Linked DNA regions of Homo sapiens: region 2 is linked to region 1. Evidence: fine-mapped expression QTL. A gene starts in region 1. The other region holds a variant in brackets. All regions are shown on one strand. Distances are between the middles of the regions.

Evidence for each region. PIP is the estimated chance that this variant, and not a neighbour inherited with it, causes the effect. A credible set is the group of variants that fine-mapping cannot tell apart.
Region 2: its variant is the best candidate, but not a certain one, in a credible set for the expression of EYA2 in aorta (GTEx, PIP 0.65).

What each region holds. Positions count from the first base shown.
Region 1 is chr20:46,889,960-46,898,297 of GRCh38, reverse strand. EYA2 (EYA transcriptional coactivator and phosphatase 2) reads right to left here and starts at 3,455. Exons shown (of 16, transcript NM_005244.5): 1 at 3,311-3,455.
Region 2 is chr20:46,946,122-46,954,459 of GRCh38, reverse strand. The region is part of intron 1 of EYA2 (EYA transcriptional coactivator and phosphatase 2); the gene reads right to left. Among named protein-coding and RNA genes, the nearest start is that of EYA2-AS1, 49 kb to the right of the region's middle. The variant G/C (reference allele first, on the strand shown) is at 4,721.

The DNA of each region.
Region 1 (8,338 bases):
TAGCTAAAAAAAACAAAAACAAAAACAACCAAAAAAAAAAAAAACCAACACAAAAACCCAAAAAACCCGGTTCCTTCCACCAACAAAACCCAGTCTTAGTCAGAAAGTCCAGCCTTTGGAGGTAACAGACTAACCAACTCCTTCACCCTCACAAACCTCACAGATAAGGGGAACCACATCATTAGGCGAATTCTCCCTTTATCAAAAGTCTCTGGGGGAGCAGGTTCTCCTCTCTCCCAAGGAATTTATGTCAGGCCAGGCAGTCTTTCTTTTCATTTTGTGCCCAGGTGGGAAGCAGTTAAGTTTTTTACACTGCCCCGCACGTGACACCAATCCTTCTCCCCAAGCCTTTGCACACACACACACAGCATACACCTAAGACCTGAAGACACTGCCTAATACTTATAATTGATTCTCCCCCAAGCATCTTTGTATGAAGGAGGCCTGCCCAGCAAAGACAAAACTCTACCCCAGTCGCAACTTCCACTCCTCCGCTCTGCGATCATGTGCGTGGATACTTAGGAAAGGCATGTGTCTAAAGAAGGCACCTCCACTCCCTTCATTTTCTCCTGACAGCCACAGGCTCTCTTCTCTCTCTGCCCAGAAAGGCATCTGTCATAAGCGGCTGGGAACCTCACTTATTCACCATTACGGCCTGCGATTTTATTATACAAGGAGTTTACTGCTGGCCTAATTAGTTTCAAACTGGGCATTCCAGCTGAGGACACCTAAAAAACATCTGGTGGAAGGAGAGAGAATGAGTCCTCGCTCTGAGCTGGTTACGGTTGGATTTCTGCATAACTCTGCTCTCTTGCGCCCGATGCAAGTTGTCTTTGGAAAAGTAACTGAAAAAATAAGGAAACGGTTTCTTCTTTGTGGGAAAGGAGTCATCTTGTCACGGAGGATCCAACAACGTCTTAAAGTGGACGTGCTTGGACTGTGTATATTTTTTCACAAACGGCTGGGGTCTCCATAGCTTGCTCACCCTAATTCAAAATGTACTTAGCTACACCACAGAGCCTTTTTGCTGAGGGCTTTTCCATTCTCCCAACAGCAGCTAGCATTTTATCAATTTATCCATCTGGAACAAGGTTTGCAATCTCTTACACGCAATTTAAAGCAGAAGTAATACCACATATTTGAAACAGCGTGTCTTGGGCGTTTTTGCCAAATGGTAATCCTATAACAAGTCAACAAATCATACCTCTTTATGATGTGTTTAATGCAAAACAAAAGACATGAAAAGAAGATTCTAAAACTTACGTGATGAAAACTTTTTAAAAAAATCCTAAAGTATTGAGATACACATCTTTTTATTTTATTTTATATTTCCTTTAGTTTTTCTGATATTGGGGAAGTGATTTGTGTGTTTATAGAGTATTCTCATACACATGGTCACAACACCAGGTGAGCTATTTTAAGACAGAAAAGAAAAATGCCAATTCCTTTCAGATAAAATAGTGAATGATATTGTGAAGCTGAAGTTACAAGAGAATGGGGACATATAAACTGCTTTAAAGTAAAAAAAAGTTCAGGCTCTTTTGCATCTAACCACATTGGTCTTTTCACAATGGCAAAAGTTAAGAGTTTGCTACGAAGGCAAGGAGATTTTTTTTAATACAAACACAATTTAATGCTTAGTCAAAAGCAAGATTCAAACCACTATCATTTGTTATTTGTTATATAAATTATAGAAGAACTTACCCAAGTGTGAGAGTGTCTAAATGCAAAGATATGTAAAGGATGAAGGGGCTTAAGGTGATGAAGAAAGACAAGTGGAAAAAATGAACATTTATTTATCGAGTAAAATTGTGAAAGATTCTTTCACAAAGATTATTTTGAAAAAGAGGTTCTCTCCTCCCACTCTTTCTTTGTGTACCTCTTTTTTTTTTTGTAAGCAGGATGGTTACATGTGTATGTTAGTTGCTAACAAATGGGTCATAGTCTGGTAAGGTGCTTACTAGTTCTGTATCTATTATGGTCACAGACATTTCACTCAATCAAGAAACGGCTCATGAAATTAATAGATTCGGTTTGAAATACAATTGTCCACTGGTTATAATTTCCTTTGTAAGGGATCTCCCTAACTCAAACATAATTCAGTGCTCAAATTCTTACATGATGTTTGTAAATCATCCTCCTGCCCCTCCGCCCTCGCTAACAGCTAGATTCCAATGTTCAGCTCTTCCACTGCACCTCGTAATTAAAAGGTACCTCTTACCGGGGTGATTTATACCTCCACGTTATATTTTAAAAAGTAATTGAAGATTACATAGCATTTCGGGGAAGGGGAAAGAAAAGAAAAGGGTATCCATAAAAACGCAGCATCGGTCTTGCTTTTTAAAAAGAATTCAGACCGCGGCAGGGTGCACGCTGTCAACTCTCAGCCTCGGCTTCGGGGAAGCAGGAACCTCGCACTGCAAAAGGCGCTTCCAGTTCAACAGCTGAGAAAAGCGCACTGAGTCTTTTGCGATAGGAGTACGTTCACCAGTCACGCTTTCCTAGTATTCCTTGAGCTTATAAACTATTTATTGCTGGGGGGGAGGCAGGCAGGAATATATTGAAGGAGCCTGGGCCAGCACGGCCGTTTAACCTCCAGACTTCATGACTAAAAAACAATTCCATTTCCCACTTTCTCCCATTACAACGAAATCCTTGCCGCCTTCTAAACACCCTTCGGATGTAAACTTTTCTAAGTTTCAACTCTACCCGCAGCAGGCGCCAGGATTCCCTGCCCCGGTTCAAAGCCCCAGACCTGAACCAGAGCGGGCCGAGCGCAAACGGACTTTTGAAAAGAAATATATCAATAGCTAGAAGGCAAAGTCTCAGCGGGCCGTTCCAGCCCCAAGCCGGGATTCCAGCGGTTGGCTCTGCTTCTTGGTTATCCCATAAACACTACCTGAGGGCTTGAGTTTGCGGACTGGGGGAGCGCCCCTTATCGCGAACCGCCGGGACCATAATCGAACAAAACGCCAAGGACCCAGCCGCGTCTACACCGCCTGCGCGCCATGCACTTGTCCCGCGCGCGGGAGAGCAAACTTCAGGGTCGTTGCCCCAAAGCGCATGGGGAAACTGGGGCCCCGAGCCTGGGAGAGCCTTTCCAGAGGGGGGCTCTGCTGCTGTCCCCTCTGCCCTTGTGCCTTCCTGGCCCTGGGAGGCCCGTGCGCCCCAGAACGTCCCGACAGCTGCGGAGGCCCCGCTTGGCGAGTGCCAGAAAGAGGCGCAGGGCGAGGGGGTCCCGGTGAACAACTCCCCCCGCCCGGCGAATCCCGGCGGGCGGCCTGGGGTGGGCGCCGCTGGCGGTACTCACCGCGCGCAGTGGAGAGGGCGCCCCGACGCGGTGCGGGCGGGCGGGCGGGCCGGTGCGGGTCCGACGAGGCCGGGCTGACTGCGGCGGGCACGTTGCTGTCTCTGCCGTTGCCGCTGCCTCCGCCTCCTGGGCTGCCGCGGCTGCTGCCTGCGCCGGGAGGACCGGCCCCTTCTCCTCCCTGGGCCGGGCCCTCCCTCTGCCCCCGCCCGGGTCCCCGCGCCGCTGCGTGGGCGCGTGGGGGCGCCGAGGCGCGACGCTGGGCTACGCGGGCGCACACACCCGGCGGCTGGACGCAGGGCGCGGGGCTCTGGCCCAGCACGTGCCGCCGCGCCGCTTCCTGAGCCTGCAGCCGAGCAGAGCGCGCTCACTCTCGCCGGTCCTGGAGGCCAGGGCCCAGCCTCCTCCCCACCCACCGACACCCCGCACCTCCTCCCTCCCCGGGGCAGCACATCCTCCCTGCAACCCAGGCATGACCCCTGTGAAAGGAACGACGGCTCGGAGAGGACCTCAATAGTGACACTAACATTCGTTCACTCAACCACCCATTCATTCATTCAAAATATATTGAGCATCTACTGTGCCAGGTACCACTCCTGAGAGACTCAGCTAGAACAAGACAGACTAGTTTTCTGCCCTCCCGGAACTTGCATTCACATGGAGAGGCAAACCATAAACAAATAACCAAGTAAAGAAGCAAGACAGTTTCAGAAAGTTAGAGTTACAGGGAGAAAAATAATATATGTATCTGCTGTTGGGGAGTGGAGGAGAGGCGGTAATTTTAGCTAGAGCAGTCAGGGAAGACCTCTCTGAGGAGGTGACATCTGAATTATGAGGAAGTGCCATTGGTGTGGTATTTAGGTGAGAACGGTTCAGGGGTCTCCCCTATGTTTCACCCATTTTACAGCTAAGGAAACTGAGGTCTCAAGAGCTTAACTGGTTTAGTGAAAGTGAGAGGTATAGCCCCCTCCACCTACATGCCCAAATCAAGGCACCCCACTTACTCCATCCTCTCATAGCCACCCCCCTTTTAGTCTCCCTGGCAATGAACTGTGTTAATTGGAGTCTATGCAGCCTTTCCTAGCCCGTCACCCACTCTCTAATGTCTATGAATTCCACCGTGGGACACCCAGGATGCTTCAATCCAAAAGCAATATCAACCACTGTCATTTCTTAAGTGCAGTAAAAGACAGGGCACCCAGGTGAATTTGAATTTCAGAGAAACGAGGAATCAGTTGCAGTATATGTCTTATGCGATTGGTTGTACGTACTTATATTTAAAAAGTATTTCTTTTGTCTCCGAAATTCCAATGTAACCGGGGGTCCTATATTTTTATTTGCAACCTTAAGCTCATCCAATGCCCAACTCTTCCTTATCTCATGTAATCCCCAAGAGAGACCCCAAGGTAGCTGCTGTCAGCACACTCATTTCACAAATGAGCAGGTCCAAGCTCAAAGAAGGCAGAAAGTGGCTGAGCCAGGAATGAAATTCAGGCCTGGCTGACTCCAAAGCCGTTGCTCTTGAGCCGTAACAGTCTTCAATTCCAGTTGTAAGTTTACAGGAGCTGATGAAGGTTAAGTTCTTGGGCCCCTGACTTGCTTGGACCCCTTTCTAAGGGGACTTAGAAAAGTGTTCAGATGGTGGCTTGTTGATGTAAAGTTTACAAAAGTCCTTTGCTTTGGACATTTGGCTGCAGGCCGTAGACACCGCTGTCTTTCCACTCCGATTCCCCACCCCCAACTTGCCCTTGAGTAGGGTGGTGTCAGGTGGCTGCTGGCATTTTGGAGGAAAGTTGAGTTGGGAATTTTGTGATGTTTGTGGTAATTTTCAGCTTCTTAAAATTTGAATTTGTTGTGATTTCTTTTCTTAATTTAAAGAAATAATCATTTTCTTATCTAATCTTGGACTCATAATTTTGTACTCTTTTTCTTGAATAGGGGCTGCAAATTATACATGTATCAGGCCTCACCATTCCCAGACCCACCTCTGGTCATAGCTTACTCCGCTTTCTACTCCCCAAACTTCAGACAGAAGCAAATGTATTCAGTAAACATGGTTGTTCTCTTCTCTGGGCCTGCCGCAGTAGGCTTGGAGATGGCTCTGCTTCTGTCTTCTAGAGGCAGAATGTACATATGTACTTGGCCTTGATTTTCTCATCACTAAAGTGAAAATAACAGTACTCATCTTATACTATTATTGTGAAAATTCATGGAGCTCATGCTCATAAAACACTTTCTACTATGACTGCAGCTGGCACTAGCAATTGCTCAACAAATATTATTACTGTACACACAGCTTCACTTCCCATAGTATCTTTGCTAAGTGCTCCAAGTCATTATAAATTGAGCATCTTAATGACCTTCAGAGGTGTTTAATTTGTCTTGGCCTGTGAACCTTAATTTTTTTTTCCTAAAGGAATAGACTGGAATAGGAAATATCAAGTGAATTGTATGCAGTAAGAATATATATACATACCTATACATATATAGTTACATATATACATATGATCCCCTATATATAGTTAAATGTATACATATGGTCCCCAATTTATGATGGTTTCACTTAATGATTTTTTTGACTTTATGACGATGTGAAAGTGATGTGTATTCAGTAGAAACCACAATTGAGATACCCATACAACCATTCTATTTTTCACTTTCAGCAAAATATTTGATAAATTTCATGAGATATTCAAAACTGTATTATAAAATAGGCTTTGTATTAGATGATTTTGCCCAACTGCGAGGTAATGCAAGTGTTCTGAGTGCATTTAAGGTAGGTTAGGCTGAGCTATGATGTTCAGTAGGTTAGGCGTATTAAATGCATTTTGAACTTAGGATATTTTCAATTTACAATGGAGAGATATATATGTATATATGTATACGTATATCATATATACGTATACATACATACATATATATATACACACATGTATCTGTATCTATATCTATATCCATATCTATATCTATATCTTTGGTCAGGATGTGAAATGTTTCTTCCTGTGGCTCATGGGGAAAAATCTTGAACACTTGTTAACCAAAGGTACCCTATAGAATGCAAAGGGTTAATCTATTTCCTTCATACCATTTTATTCCTTCCCCAGAATCTGGCCCATTATTTCATAAATTACAGACACACCCCAACGACCCTGAGAGATAAGCAGGAGGCAGGTGCTTATTAATTTTATTTTTCCTTCTCTTAGCGCTGTGATTCTCAACTCTGGGTGCACAGAATCTCCAGGGAGAGCTTTTAAAAATCTCCATGCTGAGTCCCCATCCTAGACCAATTAAACCAGACTCTGGGGTGGAACTGTGGCATCTGCCTTTTTTTTTTTTTTTTTTTTTTTGAGAAGGAGCCTTACTCTGTCGCCCAGGCTGGAGTGCAATGGTGTGATCTTGGCTCACTGCAACCTTCACCTCCTGGATTCAAGCAATTCTCCTGCCTCAGCCTCCCAAGTAGCTGGGATTACAGGCATGTGCCACCACGCCCAGCTAAGTTTTGTATTTTTAGTGGAGACAAGGTTTCTTCATGTTGGCCAGGCTGCTCTTGAACTCCTGACCTCAGGTGACCCACCCATCTTGGCCTCCCAAAGTGCTAGGATTACAGGCGTGAGCCACTGTGCTTGGCCGGCATCATCCTTTTTTAAAGCTCCCTAGGTGATTCCAATATACAGCAGAGGAAGAGAATCCCTATCTTTGGGAGAGTGAGACCTTGACCACAGAGTCACAGCAGATGAGCAGAAGCTGATAGGACTTAAGCCCCCAATGCTAATTCAAGACCCTGAAAATTCAGCCACCTTCCTATGTAGAAGCACCCCCTTTCTGTCTCTTTCTTCCCTTGCTATCTCTTTGTTAAGTATTTGTCCTCATTTGATAACAACCAGCAAAATGATCCCAAACAAAATTTGAAAGTGCTAAGCCATACAGCAGATTCTTTGTGGTGTAGTCCACAGTCATGCCTACCTTGGAGTAAAACACATTTCCCCCACTCCAGTCTTCCAAGTAAATGCCCTCTAAAGCCAGAAAAACACATTAATTTTGAAAACTATGAACCTCACAATATATCCAATGTATGTATATTCATTGTAGGATATGTATATACATATCCTACAAACACACATGTGAATTCTACAAATCATGCCTTTTTTCTAAACATATTCCTTTCCCACCTGCAAAGGTCACCTCTACAGAAAAAGCATTCAATTTTTTAAAATACATTCACTTAAACCTTGGCTCTTTCCAAAAAGGATTTGAGGCAACATATAAAACCATATATATGGCAGCAGAATAAAGAAAACAAGAAAAGCAGACAACAGGGAAACAGGAAAGAAAACAAAAGAAAGTCAAGGTAAGGTTTGCACACAAAATGTGAGCTAGAAGGTCCTGGACACTTGTCAGTGGAGAACTGAGAATTAGATGCTGAGCTTCCAGGCAGCCACTGCAAGGACAGAAATGTGATCAGTTACATCAGTGGCTTTCAAACTTTCCTTTGTTTAAAATCTAGTATGTATAGAAGTTCAGTATGGAAAAAGGAGGTGAGGGTTCCCAGCCACAGCCTTATGCCTCACCCCTTTCTCCTGTAGGTATGTGTAAAGGTCTTGAAGGAACCCCCAAAGCTCTGCAGAGTCAAGATTAAGAATCATGGATTTCAAAGTGCTCCATAGTGTTCATGATTCTTTTTTTTTTTTTTTTCCTGAGGCAGAGTTTCACTCTCGTTGCCCAGGCTAGAGTGCAGTGATGCAATCTCGGCTCACTGCAACCTCTGCCTCCTGGGATCAAGCGATTCTCTTGCCTCAGCCTCCCGAGTACCTGGGATTACAGGCATGCACCACCATGACCAGTTAATTTTTGTATTTTTAGTAGAGGCGGGGTTTCTCCATGTTGGTCAGGCTGGTCTCGAACTCCCAACCTCAGGTGATCCGCCTGCCTCGGCCTCCCAAAGTGCTGGGATTACAGGCGTGAGCCACTGTGCCCAGCCAGTGTTCATGATTCTTAATTCTTCTATGAGAAAGAAACCAAATGACTTGGGCA
Region 2 (8,338 bases), 56 kb before region 1:
AAACACAGCTGTGTGGGTTGAGACATTGCTTCTTTACTGTAAGCTCCTAAATTTACCGATTTTATTTTTCTTATTTGCCCCCCTTCCTTCCTCCCTGTCTGTTTCCCTTCTTCCACAAATATTTATTGAACTTTTACTATGTGCCGATCGTTGTTCTAGGAGTGAGGCATGGAACAGCAAATTAAACAATGTCTCAGTCCCCCTGGAGATGATGCTCTAGTAGGGGTGACCTACAATAAACAGGAGGCGCTTAAATATTCATGACAGGGTGATCAGGGAAGGCCTCTCGGAGGAGGTGATATTTGAGCAGACCCCTGAAGTGGATGAGCAAGTGATGTGAAGAGGAGGTAGGAAAGAGCAACAGGACAGAGCAGCACATGCAAAGGCCCTGGGATGGAAATGAGCTGGATGTGTCTGAATGTCAGAAAGAAGAATCGTGTGGTTGGAACATGATGAGAAAGGGTCACAGGGAGAGAAGAACATGTCCAAGAAGTAGCCAAGGGCCAGCTCACACAGGGCCTTGTAGGCCCTGGGGAAGCTAAGTGTATTGGGAATTTGCTGGAAGGTTCTGAACAGGAGAGTGGCATGGTCATCCCAACGAGAGCTCCTTTGCTCCTACTTATTCACGCGATCTATGCCTATTCAAGGAAAGTTGGAAACCACAGAAAAGAAAAAGGAAAGAAAAATGCCACCCATGATCTTAGCATCTGTGCTGGTGGTTCTGAATGGCAGTGATTTTACTTCCCAGTGGACAGTTGGCAATGTCCAGAGACACTTCTGGTTGTCATAACTGGGGAGGGAGAGGAACTGGGGAGGGAGAGGCCAGGAATACTGCTAACCATCCTACAAGGCACAGGACAGCGCCATAAGGAAGAATTATCAGGCCCCAGTGTCCGTACATCTGTCCATACCGCTGATGTTCTCAAGGCCAACTCTAAACCTGTGTTTGGGGACATTTCTCCCACTTCCAACCCGGCTCATTCTAATCTACTTTCATTTTTAGTGTACATGAGCTCCTACCTAATCTTCTATGTTGATGCTTCCTTTCCACCGAACAGGAAAACATAACCATTCCCCAAGATTTTGTTCTAACACTACCTATGATGGTGTCACTTTCCTTAGCACTGAGGTTCCATAACCAGGTCCCATAACTCTTGGGTTAACCCGCGGAGTTCTCAAGCCCTCAGACCCCAGCATCCCCATGTGTAAAGTGGGGTTAACAGTACATCTGCCTCAGAGGGTAGTCATGAAGATGAAACGAATTAGAATATGTAAAGCATCAGTGACACACACTAAATATTATAGGAACATTTGCTATGATCACAACTCAAGTATCTCCCTTTCGTGTTTTCCAAGTTTTAATATTAGGAATAATGCTGTTAAAAGTATTTTTAAAGATAGATTTCCACGACTTCAAATATTGGGTCTCTCAGAGTGGGATGACATTTGAAAATTGAACTCTATGAGCTGTGCAAAACTGTCACAGGGTGAAATAGGAATGTTTCAGGAAGTCTCATTTTTCATGTGTTTAGATGTGCAACGACTCCTGATAGAGAGTTTCCCTGGGCAAAACACCTTCACTTTGCATCTTAAGATAATTGGGAATGCAACCTCTTACATAAAAGCATCCTTAGGGTGCCCTGCTTGGGATGCGGGGCTGATCTGGTATGAGGTTCTTATTTCAGCAAGCGTGGGCAACCCCTGCCCCGGGGAAGCCAGTGGGGCTGAACTCGCAGGCCTCAGCCTGCCAGGAAGAGCTCCAGGTGATGCCTCCAGGTGCGGGGTGGCCTGCGGAGGGGACCAGGCTTTACTTTTCCATTGTGTGCGGCCTCTGGACCAAACAGGAGCTCTAGCAAAATGCCCAACTCCCTCCTTATTCCGGTGGGTGCTTGCTCTGCCCTTCACTGTTCAGCAGAGGAACTAGAAAAGCACAGAGCTGCACAAAGGAGGTGCTCAACAAATCCTTGTTGAATGAATGAATGACTGATGAACAAACGGCCAAAGCTATTGATTCATCACACCGATTTCTAAAAGGAGGTTAAATGAGGCCAGCTTCTGGCTTGCTCAGAGTAAAATCTAAAGAGCCAAGCGCAACCCATGAGGCCCTGTCTGATCCCGCCCCTGACTTCTGGAGCTCAGATCCCGCCACCCTCCATCTCTCACACTGGCCTCCTAGTGGTGGTCCCTCAAGCCCCATCCCCCACCAAGCATGCTCTCCTTTCAGACATGCCCACGGCTCTCCCTGCCCCTCTCAGGCCTCTGCCAGAGAGACCTCCCTGACCACCCTACCTTAAGGAGGGTCCCTCACTACTCCTGCCCCATTGCTCGGCGGAGTTCTTCTCCATTGCATTTCTCACCCCCGGACACATTCATTACACACGTGCCTTTGTCTGTTTCTTGTCTGTCTCTACCCTCCAGAAACTATGATTCACAGAAAGAGAGACTTGTGGGCTTTCAACACCAATAGTCATGCCTGGTATAAGTAGGAGCATAATAAATATTTGTTAAGAGAGAGGAAGGAAGAGGGAGAGAGGGAAACTGACAATGTCAGGAGGTGGCAGAATTCTTCAGAGAGGCTCTGATGCTTCTGAATATTTCTCTGGGAACCCTGTTATCCCTGTTTCACAAATGAAGGAACTTAGGCTCTGAGAGGTTGAACTTGGCCCATCTGATCCTGAAATCCACACTCTCGCCCCCATCCTCTCCTGCCTGGGCCACAGATTAGTCACTTGAAGTTCAGATGACGAAAATTACCTGTATAAGGTCCCACAGCAGGTTAGTGGGGGAGCTGGGACAAGAATCTGAGTCCTCTGACGCCTGAGAGTGGTTTTATTACTCAGCTCCCTGGTGGCCCATGATGTAGAAGTGCATAGCCCGGTTGCCCTTCAGGGCTGTTGTGGGAACTTTGTTCTAATCCTCAGTGACTGGCACTCTTCTGCTTGTCCAGCAGACCCAGGATGTAGGTTATAACTGGTATCAACCAGAGTTTAGTTGCAGAGGGTAGAACCCACTACAGCTAGCTTAAGCAGGAAGGGGTTAATTCAGGCTAGCAAACGACTTAGAGAATTTCTGGGGAGGTTGGGGGCACAGACGCTAGGATAAGCTTTAGGGAATGCCAAAGCGACACCAGACAACTGGTTACTGCTACATGTGCTGTGACCAGAAAGCTGCTGGTTACAGAAAAAATCCCTCCATGATAGGCACCTTGTGGATATCTCTATCAGGAAACCATTCCACTAATGTGCCAGCCTCATGACCTTATCACACTTGCCAGAATCCTTACAAGCAACAAGGATGCCCTGTGCCCTGCGTGGCTGATGCTGTCACTACCTTGCCTAAATCCCTTCGGCAAATACCATTTCCATGAAAACCATCCAACTTCCAAACGGCAGCAAGTGCAATGTTTTACCTGAAGGCTCTTTCTGGCATATGTGGGGTATAAAGACCCCAGCTCCCTCACCCCTAAGGAGGGATTACTCAGCGGCACGTGTTATAAGCCCTTTCCCATCAGGGTGTAGCCTTAGATGCTCAGGGAGTAACCTGCTGGATCACACACCCTCTGTTACTTTCCTTCGCTTCATGCCTTCCTTCTTTATTCCCATTCTGGTGTTTCTTGGAGTCACCTCTTAAATGAACTATTGGCACTGGAGCCCTGATCTTGAGGTCAGCTTCTTGGGAACCCACACAAAGACACCATGCCTCTCAACACACATAAAGCTAGTGCCTGCTCGCTGGGGCCTCTGCTAAAGCTGTGCAGCAAGCCAAACTACTCCAGACTCTGCACAGTGACAGAAACAACCAACACGGCAGAGGCAATTTGAGTACGACCTCCGCCTTCTGAATTTCAAGGAAGCGCATGTGCCTGCTTAATGTTCCATTACTCCTAGAAACCTAGCTGCAAGGGAGTTTGGGCTTTCCTGCCCCTTGGTGGAGGAGCACCCAGAAGGAGGAGCAGGGAACAGATGCTGCAGAGTGACTCCTCATGATTTCCCCACAGCTCCAGCACCCCAAACCATGTGCAATCTTGGAAACTCAGTGCCCAGCCATGAGACCTCCAAACTCACAGGCATCATCAAGTCACAGACTCTTAGAATATCAGGGCTAGAAGGGTACTTGAGACTCCTTAGATTATTTTATGGTTGTGAAAATTGAGTCTCTGTCTGAGAGGGGAACATCGCTGCAAGGTCCCCCTGCAGATTAGTGGCAGCTGGGAAATAATAATTCAGTTCTCCCAGACTCTAGGAAAGTGATTATTTTTTATATCACTCAACTCCATGCTTCACTACATGTTATCCTGGGAGAAACCCTTGCCCTGTCCACCACCACCTTTAAACGAGCCTGGATTGATGGCTCTTTTGATTACTGGGAGCTTACTCTGTGCCAGGCACTGTGTTGAGCACTTTGCATGCACAGTGGAGAAAAACACAGGCTATGGAACCAGAATGCCAAGGTGCACACCCAGCTCCATAAATCACCTTGTGCAAGCACCTCAGCCTCTTTGTGTCATGCTATCCTTGTGCATCATAGATGCAAAATGATACTACCTACTTCATAGGGCAGTTGCAGGTGCAGAACTGGGGTTGGGACCCTTGCCAAAAGTCACACAGTGGGTAAGTGGCACAGCCAAGGGTTGCAACCAAAGCAATGTGCTTCCACTCTTAACCTCTGGGCTACACACAGACAGATACACACAAATCTTAAAATGCATACCAACCTAACA[G/C]CTACATAAAAGTATCAAGCTTTTAAGCCAATCTTGAGCAGTCCATCCATTCAATAAATATTTGGTGAGCACCTACTATGTGCCTTAGAGGGTGTGGCTCAGTTACCCCACCATCTAGCTCCATGTGCAGGCTGAGGTTAAACCCAAAACGTGGAGAAGAACAAAACAAGTCAAGAGTCAGAAAACAACTGAAATCCTGACTGCATCAGCAACCCTGATCCAGCTATACCTGAACTGAGCTCTGACCCTGGACTCTCAGTTCCTTGATCCCCTAAATTCTCTTTACTTGCTGAACCAGTTTGACTTGAGTTCTCTATTACTTTTACCTGAAAGTCTTGACTGTGAGACTAGGTTTGGCCTGACTTACTCTCACACTTAGCAGGACAGCTGTTAAAGTGTTAAACCCTCCCCACTCCCCAATCTCACTGTTAACTTCAGATTTTCCCATAAAAGGAACCGGCTCATGTATGTTTTGTATCATCTTATGAAGCACAATATAGTGTCTTTCTAAGAGGACTTAAAACATGGCCTCAACTGCCAATAGCATTTAAAGACCTTGCACTTGAGTAGGTCTTGGTATGTGGTGGCATGTCCCAGAGACACCATAGCCAAATGATCAAACACCCCATATTCTGGAGTCAGAGACTCTGCTCCAATCCCATCTCTACCAGTCTTGAGCTCCAAGACACTGGGCATATTCCTCTGAGCTGCAGTTTCCTCATCTGTACAATGCGAGTAACATTAGCACCCACCTCCTGCAATTTTTGAGAAAATTAAATGAGATAGTGCATGTATTTTCCCTGACACAATAAATAATAAATATATATGAAGAAAACAGATATACAATGACCTGGGTTTCCACAAGTATAGATTTCAACACTACATTTATGGAGCGATCATCTCAAGCTTGAATGAAGAACAGTGCTCTTAGAGAAGTGAACATAATACTTGTGTCTCTAAGTTTGGAACTGACAGTTACCTTGAAAGTAGGGTCAACCTTTTACGAATTAAACAATAATGTGTGCAGCTTTATTTTATTTTGTTTTTTTCCAGGCAACCTTACGAGAGAAACACAATAACGTATGCATCTTGAACAGAGTATTTATCACCAGAAAAACAGTTGGAGAGGATTTTCAGTGGCTTCTTTCAACAATGTTTACTCAGCACTAACCCTGTACTGGGCACCGAGGATACAGCTGATAAGAAATATTAGTCCCTCATCTTATGCAGCTTATCGTCACTTGGGGTTTTCAAACTATAGAGTCTCACCCATAGATGGGTTAATAAAATCAGTTTAGTGAGCTGTGACCAGTGTTTTTCAAAAAAGAAATAGAGTAGACCAGGGTTGGCAACCCACAGCCTATGAGCCAAACCCAGCCCACCGCCTGCTTTTATAAATAATGTTTTACTGGAACACAGATAAGCCCATTTGTTTACATGTTGTCTCTGACTGTTTTTACGTGACAACTGCTGCACTGAATAGTTGTGACAGAGATGGTATGGCCCGCAAAGCCAAAAATAGTTAGCATTTGGCCCTTTCCAGAAAAAGTTTGCCAACTCCTGGGATAGACTAATATGGTAGTAATTTTTTTCTTTTGTTTTCTTTTTTCTTTTTCTTTTTTTTTTTTTTGAGACAAGGTCTCACTCTGCTGCCCAGGCTGGAGTGCAGATCATAGCTCACCATGGCCTTGACCTCCTGGGCTCAAGCGATCCTCCCACATCAGCCTCCTGAGTGGCTGGGACTACAGGCATGCACCACCATGCAAGGCTAGTTTTAAAACTTTTTGTAGACATGAGGTCTCACTATGTTGCCTAAGCTGGTCTGGAACTCCTAGCTTTAAGAGATCCTCCCACCTTGGCCTCTAAAAGTGCTGGGATTATAGGCAGGAGACACCATGCCCAGCCATATGGTAGTTATCTTAATGCTGTTGACCAAATATCTCAGATTCACCTTCTGGGTCCACAGTAGGGCTGCACTTCTTCACTCTATTGAAAGTTATGGTCATGTGAGCTGCTTTGACCAAAGAAATATTCAAAGAAATGGTGAGTACCACTCTTGTCAGACACTTGGAGATCAGTGTGTGATGTTCTGCTCCTTCAGGATCCCCAGTGATCCAGGGCAAACGTGGAGCAGGAGCAATAAATAAATGTCTGTTGATTTAAGGCACTCAGATTTGGGGTTACTTGTTACCACAGCATCATCAAGCTGATCCTGACTGGTGTTCATAGAAAATACGAGAGCTTATCACATATAGTAAGGCAAGCATTGTTTCTTAAAACTTTCATTTCTGTATGTGTTTTGTGTGGTTTGTGTGTGTGGTGGGGACATCTGTGTGTATGCAGTTTATTGTATGTCATTACAGGGGTGACATATAAAATATGTCCTTTATGAGGATCACAGTCCAAAGTTGTTTAAAAACAGTGGTCTGGAACTTTGGAAAAAAAAAAAAACTTAGATTCCAGAGAATAACATCTAAAATATTTGAAAGACTAGACAAGAGAACCTGGGAGAAAAGTTCTAAGATGAGTTTGGGAGGGTTAGTAATGCTCTTCATGTACATGCAAAAAAAAGTCTGCTTCTCAGCCAGCCATTCCTCAACTCTTTAGAGTAGAGGTCAGCAAGCTTTTCTGTGAAGAGCTAGATGGGAAATATTTTAGGCTTTGGGGGCCAAGAGGTCTCTGACGCCACTTCTCAGCTCTGCTGTTGTAGTGGGAAAGCAGCCATAGATAACACAGAATGAATGGGTGTGGCTGCTTTCCAATAAAACTTTATTTACAAAACAGGCAACTGGCCAGGTTTGAGCTGTTGGCCTCAGTTTGCCAACTCACGCTCTAGGGGATCAAACAAAGAAGTAGAAACAGGCCAAAACTGCAGTAAGAAGAACTGACTCTTTAGATCTATGGAAGAACTAAAAGGGAGTTCGTAGAACAAAGCCCCATCATCTACGTTGGGTGGGTGGGGAGGGGGCAGTCAGTAAACTATGGCCCATGGGCCAAATTCTGGCTGCTGTCTGGTTTTGTATATAAAGTTTTATTCAGTTATATACTGTCTATGGCGGCTTTTATGTGATAAGAGCAGAGTTGAGTAGTTACAGCAGAGGCCCCCAAAGCCAAAAATATTTATGACATGGTCCTTTACAGAAAATGTTTGCTGACCGCTGGCCTATATGGCCTTACTCATACCCAGGCTCATGTTCAAATGATGGTAATCAGGGGCTTAGGGTGGACCCAGGGTCATGTCCAGAAAAGTTCTTAGAACAAAGGGAGCCCCTCGCACAATGATATTTTTAATAAAGTAAATAGGGCAACAGCCAAAAAAAGAATCAAAGTAACCCTTGGCCCTGCACCCTGGGGAGATTTTGACCGCAGTGATGCTCAAGAAATGAGTTCACAGCTAAAACGTGCTCCATAAATGTTAAAATAACAAGAACAATAAATGGCAATAAAACACAAAGCCATGTACCTCGTCTCCACGGGCAAGACCTCCTAGGGCTTTGAGCTTAGAAGTAGGGAGGGAAGCAGCCCTCCCGCTGATGGCCAGTCTTGGCAGAGGGTCCAGCAATCCTGCAGGGATCCAATGGGTGAGGTCCAGAGGAGGAAGAAGTTCAAATATAAACA